3 separate regions of the Homo sapiens genome follow, and regions 1 and 3 are each linked to region 2. Evidence: fine-mapped expression QTL. A gene starts in region 2. Each other region holds a variant in brackets. All regions are shown on one strand. Distances are between the middles of the regions. Region 1 overlaps CFAP92 (cilia and flagella associated protein 92 (putative)). Region 2 holds the start of CFAP92 (cilia and flagella associated protein 92 (putative)). Region 3 has its middle 4.1 kb from the start of MIR12124.

What was found. PIP is the estimated chance that this variant, and not a neighbour inherited with it, causes the effect. A credible set is the group of variants that fine-mapping cannot tell apart.
Region 1: its variant is the best candidate, but not a certain one, in a credible set for the expression of CFAP92 in transverse colon (GTEx, PIP 0.68).
Region 3: its variant is the best candidate, but not a certain one, in a credible set for the expression of CFAP92 in cerebellum (GTEx, PIP 0.59).

The regions. Positions count from the first base shown.
Region 1 is chr3:128,928,419-128,932,659 of GRCh38, reverse strand. The region is part of intron 12 of CFAP92 (cilia and flagella associated protein 92 (putative)); the gene reads left to right. Among named protein-coding and RNA genes, the nearest start is that of ACAD9, 51 kb to the right of the region's middle. RefSeq lists an enhancer at 1-446. The variant T/A (reference allele first, on the strand shown) is at 1,964.
Region 2 is chr3:128,992,318-128,996,558 of GRCh38, reverse strand. CFAP92 (cilia and flagella associated protein 92 (putative)) reads left to right here and starts at 2,483. Exons shown (of 16, transcript NM_001394090.1): 1 at 2,483-2,579; 2 at 3,223-3,516. The coding sequence starts at 3,255. RefSeq lists a silencer at 2,268-2,477 and an enhancer at 3,054-3,815.
Region 3 is chr3:128,848,762-128,853,002 of GRCh38, reverse strand. It overlaps the pseudogene MARK3P3 and the pseudogene MARK2P6. Among named protein-coding and RNA genes, the nearest start is that of MIR12124, 4.1 kb to the right of the region's middle. The variant G/T (reference allele first, on the strand shown) is at 1,662.

The DNA.
Region 1 (4,241 bases), 64 kb after region 2:
ACCTGGGCGGTCCAGGCGCCTGCTGAGAGGCATAGGGCATATTCCTGAGTGGGACATTTGCCTCTGGTCGTGCCTGCGCTCCTGGCCTGGGCTACCCTGCTGGATGGGCAAGAAGTGCAGGATGTGGGGCTGAGCCATGTCAGAAACCTTCACTCCCAGTCCTAGATAACCTTGTCCTTCCTGAAAGGTGAGAAGGAATGCTATTAGCTATATTACCTTTACCATGGCTCCCAGAGTTCATTGTAGAGAAAGAACTGTGGCATGTGTGTGTGTGTGTGTGTAACATGTTGCTTACGCTGCTCAGGGCATAAGTGTCATAAGATGTCCAAGCAACATGGGACATAAACTAATCTGCATGACAGAGGGAGAGAATGGGAGACTGAGAAGCTGGTGAGGGGGTAGAAGGCTGGTGCTGTGTGGCCTGAATGGGCAAGGAGAACCTCGCTCACCCCATGCCAACCAAAAAGACATGAAAACACAGACATCTGTGGTATGACTTGGAGTTGTGTGCCTGTGGTCTGTGTGAAGGCCCTACCATCCCTGCAATTCTCCAGTTTAAAACAAAGACTCCTAGAAGCTTGTAAGCTTTGTATGTGTGCAGTCTTTATGAAAACCAAAGAACAGACTTCTTTTATGTTTTTTGAATCGGGGTCTCACTCTGTTGCCCAGGCTAGAGTACTATGACTTGATCATGGGTCACTGCAGCCTCCAACTCCTGGGCTCAAGCAGTCCTCCCACCTCGGCCTCCTGAGTAGGCAGGCATGCGCCACCACACCTGGTTAATTTTTTTTACTTTTTTTTTAGAGATTGGGTCTTGCTGTGTTGCCTAGGCTGGTCTCCAGCTCCTAGGCTCAAGGGATTCTCCTGCCTCGGCCTCCCAAAGTGTTGGGATTACAGGTGTGAGTCACTGTGCCTGGCTGTTTTTTCCATTAGTGGAAAAAACTTTTTAGCTTTTTCAAAAGAATCAGTTCTTGGATTTATCAATTCTGCTTTTTCTGTTTTTCTAATTCATTAACTTCAGCTTTTATTTTTATGATACTTTAAAACTTACACCTTTCTCCTTTTTTCTATCTTCTCTAGTTGGCTATTTCATTCATTTTTATTTCTCTTGTGTAATATATATATATATATACACATACATACATATATATACATATATACATATACATACATACATATATATACATGTATGTGTATATATATATACACACATATATATATCTCATACCACTTTGGGAGGCCGAGGTGGGCAGGTTGCTTAAGCTCAGGAGTTCGAGACCAGCCTGGGCAACATGGCGAAACCGTCTCTACAGAAAATTAGCTGGGCATGCTGGCATGTACTTGTAGTCCCAGCTACTCAGGAGACTGAAGCTTGAGCCTGGGAAGCACAGGTTGCAGTGAGCTGAGATCACGCCATTACATTCCAGCCTGGATGGCAGAGTGAGACCCTGTCTCAATGCGGCACAGTGCCTAATGCCTGTAATCCCAGCATTTTGGGAGGTTGAGGCGGTCAGATCCCTTGAGGCCAGGAGTTCGAAACCAGCCTGGCCAACATGGCAAAACCCGTCTCTACTAAAAATACTAAAATTAGCTGGGTGTCGTGGTGCACACTTGTAATCTCATCTACTTGGGAGGCTGAAGCAGGAGAATCACTTGAATCTGGGAGGTAAGGTTGCAGTGAGCCAAGATCGCGCCACTGCATTCCAGCACTCAGAGCAACAGAATGAGACCCTGTCTCAAAAAAACAAACAAACAAAAAAAGTCAAACAATGTTGAGAGTATTTGCAGTCTTCCTTATCCTACCTCTTAATGCACTTAGATATGTACAAGAATATATATTCATTTCATGGGTTAATATAATTTTGTTAATGCCACATAACAAGGAAGTGTTTTAAATTTATTTTTATTTTTGAGACAGTCTTGCTCTGATGCCCAGGCTCGAGTGTAGTGGCGTGATCTCGGC[T/A]CACTGCGGTATCTGCCTCCCAGGCTCAAGTGATTCTCCTGCCTCAGCCTCCTGAGTAGCTGGGATTACAGGCACACACCACCATGCCTGCCTAATTTTTGTATTTTTAGTAGAGATGGGGTTTCGCCATGTTGCCCAGGCTGGTCTCGAACTCCTGGCCTCAAGTGATCCACCTCAGCCTCCCAAAGAGCTAGGATTACAGGTGACCACGCCTGGCCATGAGGAAGGGTTTTTAAAGATTTTGCAGGGCCAGGCACAGTACTCACACCTGTAATCCCAGCACTTTGGGAGGCTGAGGCAGGCGGATCATGAAATCAGGAGATCGAGACCATCCTGGCTAACACAATGAAACCCCATCTCTACTAAAAATACAAAAAAATTAGCTGGGCGTGGTGGCGGGCACCTGTAGTCCCAGCTACTTGGGAGGCTGAGACAGGAGAATGGCGTGAACCCAGGAGGCAGAGGTTGCAGTGAGCCAAATTCACGCCACTGCACTCCAGCCTGGGCGACAGAGCGAGACTCCATCTCAAAAAAAATGCAATAATATGGAGAATTTTATAATATAGTAGTATACAATTTATTTACTAGCCCCCTATCTCTTACAAATTTGCTAAAATCTCTTGTAAATATTGTTCCAGCTTTTTAAAAAATCATGTTCCTATTATCTTAGATATGGCTACTCTAAAATGGCTTTAAATTTCCTATTCATACTATAATAATTGAAACCCAACCATAATTTAATTTTTTCACATTTTTACACCTTGAGATATAATTTACATACCATAAAATTCACCTATTGTAAGTATATATAAATCAGTAGTTTTTAGTAAATTTATAGTTATAACACCATCATCACAATCCAGTTTTAGAACATTTCCATCACCACAAAAAGTATTCTCATGCTAGTTTACAGTCAATCTCTGCTCCATTCTTAGTCCCACATAACCACTGATCTACTTTCTGTCTTGATAGATTTGACTTGTCTGAATATTTCAGGTAATTGGAACCATATAATTATGTAAACTTTTGTGTCTGGCTTCTTTCACTGAGCATAAAGTTCCTGTGGTTCATCCACGTACCTGAATATATCAGCGGTGTGTTCTTTTTTTATTGCTAAATATTATTCCATTGAATTGATGTACCACATTTATCCATTCACCACTTTTTGGAATTACTATTATTTCTTGCTTGGGGCTATTATAAATATTGCTCCTATAAACATTTGCATACAAATCATTACGTGAAAATATGTTTTCATTTCTCTTGGGTAGAACCTAGGAGTGGAATTGCTGGGTCATATAGGTAGGTTTATATTTATGATTTTAAGAAATTACATTGTAAGAAAAGCGGTTTTTACAGTGTAGTTGCACAATCTTAACATCCCTACCAGCAATGCATGAGGGTTCTAGTTTCTCTGCATTCATACAAACACTTATCCGTCCTTTTGATTATAGCCATTCTAGTGTGTATCTCATGATTTTAATTTGCATTTTATAATGACTGACGATGCTAGATATCTTTTAATGTGCTTATTAGGAATTTATAACGCTTCTTTGATGTAATATATATTTGTATCTTTTTGAATTAATCTCTTTTTTCAAATTGAGACAGGGTCTCACTGTGTTACCCAGGCTGGTCTTGAACCCCTTGGGCTCAGGCAGTCCTCCCACGTTGGCTTCCCGAAGTGCTGGGATTACAGTTATGAGTCACTGTGCCTGGCCATCTGTATCATTTATCCATTTTAAAATCAAGTTGTCTTTTTATTGTTGAGTTGTTATATATTCTGGATACAAGTACTTAATGAGAAATATGATTTGCAAATATTTTCTCCATATTTGTGGCTTTTCTTTTTTTTCTTAATGGTATAAGAAAATTTTGAAGTATAAAAGTTCTTAATTTTAATAAATTCCAATTTATGTTTTTTCTGTTAGCAATCATGCTTTTGGTGTTATAGTTAAGGACTCTGCTTAAAGTTACGAAGATCATTTCATATCCTTTCTCTTACACTTACTCTTAGCTCTCACATTTAGATCTGTGAACCATTTTTTTTGAGGTCCAATGTAAGGGTCTAAATTAATCTTTTTGCATATGGATATCCAGTTGTCCTCACATCATTTCTTGCAAAGACTAGCTATTCCCCCATTAAATTGACTTAGCATCTTTTTGTCAAGAATTGACCATAAATGTAAGGGTGTATATCTGAGTTCTAAACTATGTTCCATTAACTTATATGCCTCTCCATATACCAGCAACACATTGTCTTGATGACTTTAATTAT
Region 2 (4,241 bases):
CTGAGGTAGGGTTGTAGACCCACCACTGTCTCATACCTGAGTAGTGGGTAGCACACCTTTGCCCTCACTTCATCCTGTGATGCCCTAGGTCTTGACCCAGACACCATCTCTCTCAGGGCAGTGGTTCCATATTCTGGTTGTGCAATACAATCTTGGTGGTAATTTAAAAATATGGCTCCCGTTCCTATTATTTATTGCACAACAAATCACCCCAAAACTTAGTGGTTTAAGAGAGCAACAATTTGCTTATAAATCTACAATTTCTCATGATGGAGACAGCTTGTTTCTGTTCCTCAATGTCAGCCAGGGTGGCTCAAAGACTGAGGGCTGGGATCATTTGAAGTCTTGCACTCTCATATGTCTGGGGGTTGAGGCTGCAATTGGCTGGGAACCGTCAGTCACAACAGTTTCATGTGGCCATTTCACATGGCTGCTTGGGCTTCCTCACAACATGCTAGCTGGATTCCTAGCATGAATACTATACCTCAAAAGAACAGGGCAGAGGTAGATGGAATTTATATGACCTGGCCTCAGAAATCACATAGTGTCATTTCCTCTGCACTCTTTTGACTGAGCCAGTCACAGAGGTCTGCCCAGTTTCCAGAGAAGGAGACTAGACCCCCCAACTGGGTGGGAGGAATGTGAACCTCACAATGCCTGCCGGAAGATTATGTGGGAGGGGATCTTTTGAGGTGGCTGTCTTTGGAAAATACAATCTGCCACTGGTTTCTAAGCTCCACCCCTGGAGAGTCACTTCCACAGGTCTTTAATGAAGCCTCAGAATTGTATTTTTGACATGTAGGTGTTTCCAGTGCACATCCAGGATGGCACATTGGCCCTTGGTCCAAGACCTCTGGCCTCTCACTATTGAGCTTGGGAAGAGATTGGCTTCTGTCCTAGGTGGTGATGTGATCTAGGAACCTTTGGAGGGAAACCAGCCTCAGGCCAGTGGGTAGGACCTGGGGAGCAGGAGGCCTGATGTCTGTCCAAGAGTGGTGGTAGTGTTGAACTGCCCTTGTTAAAGGGCCCTTTTGGGGGCTGGTGTATCTGAGTAGCTTTGTATTCTTCCAGCCCTTCATGTGTCTCCTGAGCACTTCCTGGCATACAGACAGCAGTCTCCAGGCTGCTGCAGGTGGGGTGTGGGCAAGGTGGTTGCCGTTCTCGTGCTAAGAGTTTGAACCCACTCCTCACAGGGCCCACTGCCATTTGGTGTCTTCCCTAACAGCTGTACTTGAGGCTGTTTTTCAGACTGAACCCGAGGAGTATTGGAGCACCCAGTATTAAAGGGGCTGTCCCATGCCCTGAGAGCGGTCTGGGGAGGCATGCACTGGGAGGCTCAGGACTTGGGTCTCAGCCCCAGCTGCGCCACAGTTTTGCTCTTTGACACAAAGTAGGTCATAGCTCAACTCAGCTAAAGTTTTCTTAATAGCCAAGCTTGTGTGTAGCCTCAGCTCCCATTCTCTTGAACAAACTGACTGCCGGAGCAGGGTGCCCTCCCTCAACAGAAGACCTGCCTTGGCTCCCCATTGCCCATAGTCCTGTGCCCTAACCTGCCCTGTGGGGCTATGTACCATGGGCCCTGCACACTGCTACAGCCTCGCCACCCATTCCTGAAACTTGCCATGCCCTTTCACCTCTATGGGCCTTTGCATATGCTGTTCCTCTACCTGGGATGCTTTCTCTTGCTTTCACCGCCTCTGCCTAGTCACCCCCCAGATTTGGCGTTGCTCACTTCCTCCATGAGGCCTACCCCAGCCCTCTGTCCCAGCCGCTTGCTGTGCTGAGGTCCTCTACATTAGGAGCCGCAGCCAGGGCTCTCAGCTTGGGTGGTTTAGCAGACGAGCGGAGGCTTTGGAGTCAGGCAGTCCGGATTTCAACACAGTGCTGCGCCCTACTTGCTGTGTGACCTCGGGCGAATCGCTTCACCTCTCTAAGCTTTGTTTTCTGATCTCTGAGTTGGCGCTCATGATCACTAACAAGAATTCTCATGCTATTTTAAGGACATCAGCGACAGAAGCAGAGAATCTAATGAGAGGGATCGTGGGGAGGTCTGGTTTTTAAGGACATCGGCGACAGAAGCAGAGAATCTAATGAGAGGGATCGTGGGGAGGTCTGGAGTTTGCAGAGCCCACAGCTTCCTTTGCTTTTATTAAAGAATGGGAGGTGGGAGCTGATGGAGGGGGAGGAAGGAGCCATCAACCCCTACCTCCCATCGTACGGGCAAGGACCAGGCTTATAGTAGGTGCTGACGTTCCGAGTAGAAACTCCTTAATGAGTGAATGCATGAGTGAAGGAATGAAGGCAGCTGGTTTCTGAACCTGGATGTAGCCATTTGACAAACTGCGCGCAGTGGCTGAGGGGGAAAGCCCCGCCCCGCGGAGCCCCGCCCCCAGGCCGCACGCCCTCGCGTCTCCTAGCAACCGCCAAACGTAGCTGAGTGGCTGGGCCTGCGGCCCTCCCTGCACCGGCGGACGCTCCTCTCAGTCTTGGAGTCTCTTCGCCCAGGTGGCTGTGGATCCGGTACGGGAGTTGCCGCCGCGGTCCAACTCCCCGCTGCCGCCCAGCGCATCCGCTCGCAGGTACCGCCAGCACCTGGAGGGGAACCCCGACCCCTGCCCCCACCTCGGCCGCCGCAGCCCGGGACTCTTCCCGCCTCGCCTCGATGCGTGTTCCCTCTTCGGCGTTTGCCCGGCGTTCCGCCTCCATGGGCCTGAGCTGATGCCCCGAGCCCAGCACCCAGTGCACATTCATGTTCTGTCTTGGGGACAGGGCTTGCCCTCCCCGACCTCGCCAGGCTCCTGCACGTGCTGCCCCCGGCCTGGTTTGCCTCTCCCCAAATAGCAAACGCATCTTGTGCTTAGGCGCAGCAGGCCTGCCTGAGCAGACGTCCCCTCTCCCGCCTGGTGGCTCCCGGGAGCTGCTCACCTGGGGCAGGCATTCCAGAAGCCCGGCGACTGACTCCTGGTTAGGCGAAGGAAACGGGGTTGCTCGTCGTCGTGCTTACTGCCAGCCACCCTTATCTGTTGTTCCTTCATCCATTCATTCTCTAAGTCGATTGAGTACCGACTGTGTGGCAGGCAGTGAAGGAGCCCCGGCGTTCATCTAGGAGCAGGCGGGGGAAGCAGGGAAGAGAAGGGTGGGTGCTTCTGCAGGAGGCCGGGCTTACCTCCTGGAGCAGCCCTGGAATACAGGCGGGGACAGCCTTCACTTTCTCCCTGCCAGGAGCGCCGGCGGCCAGCAGTGCGCTCTGCAGCATGTCGCTACATGCCTGGGAGTGGGAAGAGGACCCCGCAAGCATAGAGCCCATCTCCTCCATCACTAGCTTTTACCAGTCCACGAGCGAGTGTGACGTGGAGGAACACCTGAAGGCCAAGGCCAGGGCCCAGGAGTCTGACTCTGACCGCCCGTGCAGCAGCATCGAGTCCTCATCTGAGCCTGCCAGCACTTTCAGCTCCGACGTGCCCCACGTGGTCCCCTGCAAATTCACCATCTCACTGGCCTTCCCTGTGAATATGGGTAGGTGCTAGAGCAGAAGTTTAACACCCTCTGAAAAAAGGAGGTGCATGACTTTCTGCAGGAGTTTAGGGCGCATACACCCCACATCCTCTCTCCACCTGCCCCACCCCAAAGCGGGCTGGCCAGTGCCAGCCAGGAGCAGAGGTTGAAAAGAAACAGCAATTTTAGGAGAGGCCCAACTGTGGCTGCATCAGCTTCACATACTTAATCCTCTCAACAACCCTAAAGCAGGTGATGTTCTGTCTGCTTTTTACAGAAGAAAAAAAAACCATGGAGAGGTTAAGGCATTGATTCTCATAAGCGCTTGTGCATCACCTAATACCTTGTTTAAAATACATTTTCCGGGAGTCTGAGGCAGGAGAGTCTCTTGAACCCCGGAGGTGGAGGTTGTGGTGAGCAGAGATCACGCCATTGCACTCCAGCCTGGGCAACAAGAGCAAAACTCTGTCAAAAAAAAAAAAAATAATAATTCTTTTTTTATTGAGATGGAGTCTTGCTCTGTCACCAGGCTGGAGTGCAGTGGTGCGATCTCAGCTCACTGCAACCTCAGCCTTCCGGGTTCAAGCAATTCTCGTGCCTCAGCCTCCCAAGTAGCTGGGATTACAGGTGCACGCCACCACACCCATCTAATTTTTGTATTTTTAGTAGAGACTGGGTTTCACCATGTTGGCCAGAATGGTCTCGAACCCCTGACCTCAGGTCATCCTCCTGCCTCAGCCTCCCAA
Region 3 (4,241 bases), 140 kb after region 2:
ACAGTCCTCAAGACCATTGGCCCAGGGAAGCCTGGGTGAGGTGAAGTTGACCCAGCACGAACTCACTGGGACTCAGGTGGCTGTAAAAATAAAATCTATAACTAGGGGCTCCCCCAGCCTTCTGAGTCTACACAGAAAGGTAGACGTCATGAAGGCCCTGAGTGTCCCATCATAATAAAGCCATATCATGTCATTGAAACCTCAGACATCCCATACTGAGCTATGGTGATACTCATAGTGAAGACCTTTTCCACCAAACACTCCAGCCTGGCCACATGGAGAAGGAGGAGGCTCAAGCCATGTTTCTGCAAATACTATCTGCCCTGTAGTACTGCCACCAAAGTCAGCCGCCAGGACCTGGGTGGCAGGACTCCTGCATGAAGAGCACAACATGAAAAGAGCTGACTTTGGCTTCAGCACCACATATTCCCAAGGCCAGAAGCTGAGCGCCTTTGGTGGGACTCCCCTTAAGCTGCCCCAGAACTCTTCCTGGGCCACGAGTATCACAGCCCTGCAGTGGTCGTGTGGGTCTTGGCTCTCCCGTCTACCACATGGGGCCAGGGCCCTGCCATTTGGCAGGCAGAACTTCTCAGCCTCAAAAAAACATACTCAAGGAAAATATGTACTGTCTATATTCCTTCCGAATTGAAATATTTATCAAGAAATTTCTGATCCTTGACCCCAGAGAATGACCCACAGAGGACCAGCTGATGCGGGACCCCTGGGTCAATGCTGGCCAGGGAACCCTTGGGCCACACATAGAGCTGCTCCCCAGTCACCTGGGCCCCCTAACAACCTGACTCTTGGTAGCCGTGACATTCTAGGCACATCAAGGAATCCCCAGTAGGAAAAAATATATATATAATTATTCCATGGCCACCTACCTAATCCTGGGGATCCCACTGACCTTCCCCATCCCCCAAAGTTAAGTCCAACTTTTCTGTCCAACCAAAGGGGAGTCAAGGGCTGGAATGTTTGGTGAAAAAGGTCTTGACTGTGGCCTTTCCCACCCTTACTTCAGAAATCCAGCAACCCAAGGAGGACCAGGGCCAGGGCAGAAGATGCCCAGAGAAGCCACCTTGCCTGCTTGTCCCCTTCTGGGCCTGGAGGTGATGTGACCCAATACCAGCACATCTCCGAGTGTGGCCCTGTGGCCTCCCCCTCCATCCAGAGCACCAGCAGCAGTGGGAGCGGCCCAGGAGTCAACTGCCCCCAGGGAACATCCCAGGACGTCAGTTCTGTCCATGTGGGAGACCCAGGAGGAGTCACCTGTCCCCAGGGAACAGCCCGGGAAGCCAGCACCCTCTCCACTGGGCATCAGATGGTGTGACCTCAGCCTCTCCCTGTGAAGAGAGCCAGGGCTGCCAGGGAGCCACTAGATTTGTCTTCAAAAACATTTTGCTTCCTCCTGGCCCCAAAGACCCACTGTGCATGGAGAAATACAGTGGCTCCAGTAAACCCAGGGGACAGCTGCGGCCCAGACACAAACCAAGCGGAGGGTGGGGGGCAAGCTGCCTTTTCTGCACTTTATTTTATTTATTATGCTTTTGTTGGTTTCTTTTTTTGTTTTTAGAAAATGTCTCTGAGTCATATGTTCATTATTATTATCATTATTATTTTGAGATGGAGTCTCACTCTCTCGCCTAGGCTGGAGTGCAGTG[G/T]CGCAATCTCTGCTCACTGCAAGCTCTGCCTCCCGGGTTCACGCCATTCTCCTGCCTCAGCCTCCCAAGTAGCTGGGACTACAGGCACCTGCCACCACGCCCGGCTAATTTTTTGTATTTTCAGTAGAGACGAGGTTTCATCATATTAGCCAGGATGGTCTCAATCTCCTGACCTGGTGATCCGCCCGCCTCGGCCTCCCAAAGTGCTGGGATTACAGGCGTGAGCAATGGCACCTAGCCGTTTATTATTTTTTAATTATTATTTTTAATTGGAAAATTATGCTTGTATTCATTTATGGGATATAATGTGAGGATTAGATAGATGTGTGCACCATGGAATGATCAAATCTTAGCATCTCCATCACCTCAGAAAGGCAAATTCCACATGAAGTTACGGAAGTCTTGATCGAAAAATGTTGACCCCGTAGAAGTAGCGAGTAGATCAATGGTGACCAGGGGCTGGGTATCAGGTGTGGGGGTGGGAAAGAGGGAGAGAATGGAGAGTTGTTGCTCAAAGGACCAAAGTCTGAGATGGACAGGAAGAAGAGGTTTTCACATCCAGTGCACAGCAGGGTGACCAGAGTCAATGAGAATGTATTGCGTATTGCAAAACACCTGAGGGAGTCCATGTCAGTCAAATGTCTTTCTGTACTTAGAATGGAGAGGACGAAGGCCCTGAGGTCCAAGAACACTACAAACATGACAGGTCAGCCACGTGTGGGCTCCAACGGCCGCATGGGAGAACTGGGCAAGACACCCTCGCTGCTGTGTGTCTGACACCCCCAGCCTGGAGGCCTTGTCCAGTGGAGGACAGAAGTGTGTAAAGTGGCAGAGGGGTCTCTGCATGGGATTCAAATCAAGTAAGCTTCTGGTAGCCGTGTGGCCTTGAAAGCATTCTTATCCAAAGGAAGGGGTGAGATGGACCGCCTGGAGCCTCCTGGACATCAGAGGGCGCCTCCATCCCACCTAGTGGAATGTAAAAGCCTGGACAGTGTTTCCTGGGGCACTTCTCCCCTGCCCTGCTCTTCTCTGTCTTTTCTTCATCCAGATGGTTCTAATTTGGCTCATGTTAGGGTAGGAGAGAAGATATGGCCCAGGGCACTGTCTCTTCCTCCTGTGTGCTCCTGCTTCCTCTGCCCTGCCACCTCCTTCTCCCCTAACCCCGCCCAGGTCACTGCAGTCCTCTCTCCATTTGGAGGCAGCCAGAGTGATAGTGCAGCCCCCCGGGAGGCCATGGCCGGGAGCTTTGTGGGCAGCAGCCAACGGAGTGCCAGAGGCACTCGACCTGCCCACGGGAGCAGCTTCCATTTGTTCACACTAATCCAGGGCGTGCCCTCACGGGGTAGCTGGGGAGCACAAACTGTGTGCACTTGGATATCCTCCAGGGATTCTGCAGAGTCTAAAGGGGACGGTGGAGGGGAAGTGTCCTCTGGCTGTGCCCCTGAAGTCTGATTGTGCCTCCGGGGTCTGCACACAGCCGCAGAGCAGGGGATGACCACAGGGCCTCTCTGGGGACACCTCCTAGCTGCCCCCACATGGCCACTGATGCACCCAGGGCCTCAGGTGTGATTCGACAGTCACTGGCCCGGGTCCCCTCAAAGCAAAACGGGGGCTCCAGGGTGGGCAAGGGTGAGGGTGTGACCCCAGAAGAGTCATGAAAGGATAAGGAGGGGAGTGGCTCTTAGTTTCTGGGCACACCCCTCCCCTCTCCTGTGCAAGGGAAAATGATAGAGGGAACATGGCAAAGGAGACCAGGCTCTGGAGAGGGCTCTCGGTCTCCACCCTCCCCAGGCAGCCTGTGCGACTCTAGCCTAGTTATTGGAGTTGGCGTTGTGCCTCAGTTAGCATAGTTCAGAGGTAGGATTTGTAGTCAGGGTAGTTAGGAGGCACCACGGAGGAGGGATCAGCCTCCAACGCACTTGATGAAGAGATCCAAAAGTGTAGGATCCTCAAGACCATCGGCCAGGGCACGTTCGGTGAGGGCACACTGGTCCAGCATATGCTGACAGGGACCCAGGTAGCCATGGAAATCATCCCGAAGAAGGCTGGCTCCCCCGCATCACTCTCCAGAGAGGTCAGTATCACGGAGACCCTCAAGCGTCTGAACATTCAGCTCCATCAGGTGACTGACACCATAGACACCGACTATTTGGAGATGGAGTGCGTCGGACGAGGACAGCTGCACCACCAGATATGCCACCACAGCCACATCGAGGAGGAGGAGGAGGCCCACACCCGGTTCAGGCAGATTCCGTCAACACTGCAGGACTGCCACTTAAAGAACATCTCACATGGAGACCTAAAGCCACAAAACATCCTACTGGATGAGGATGGCAACATCAAATACCTGGACTTTGGCTTCAGCACCACACTTACGAAGTGTGCCAGCCTTTTGTGGCACGTACCCCCTACGTGGCCCCAGAACTCTTCCTGGGCCAGGGGTGTCAGTGCCCGCCGTGGAGGTATGCTTAGAGTAATGCTACACCACATGGTAGCCGGGGCTCTGCCCTTCTACTCTATGCACATCAAGAACAAAATAAACAGGAAAGTACACATTGCCTCCATTTTTCTTTTCATTTC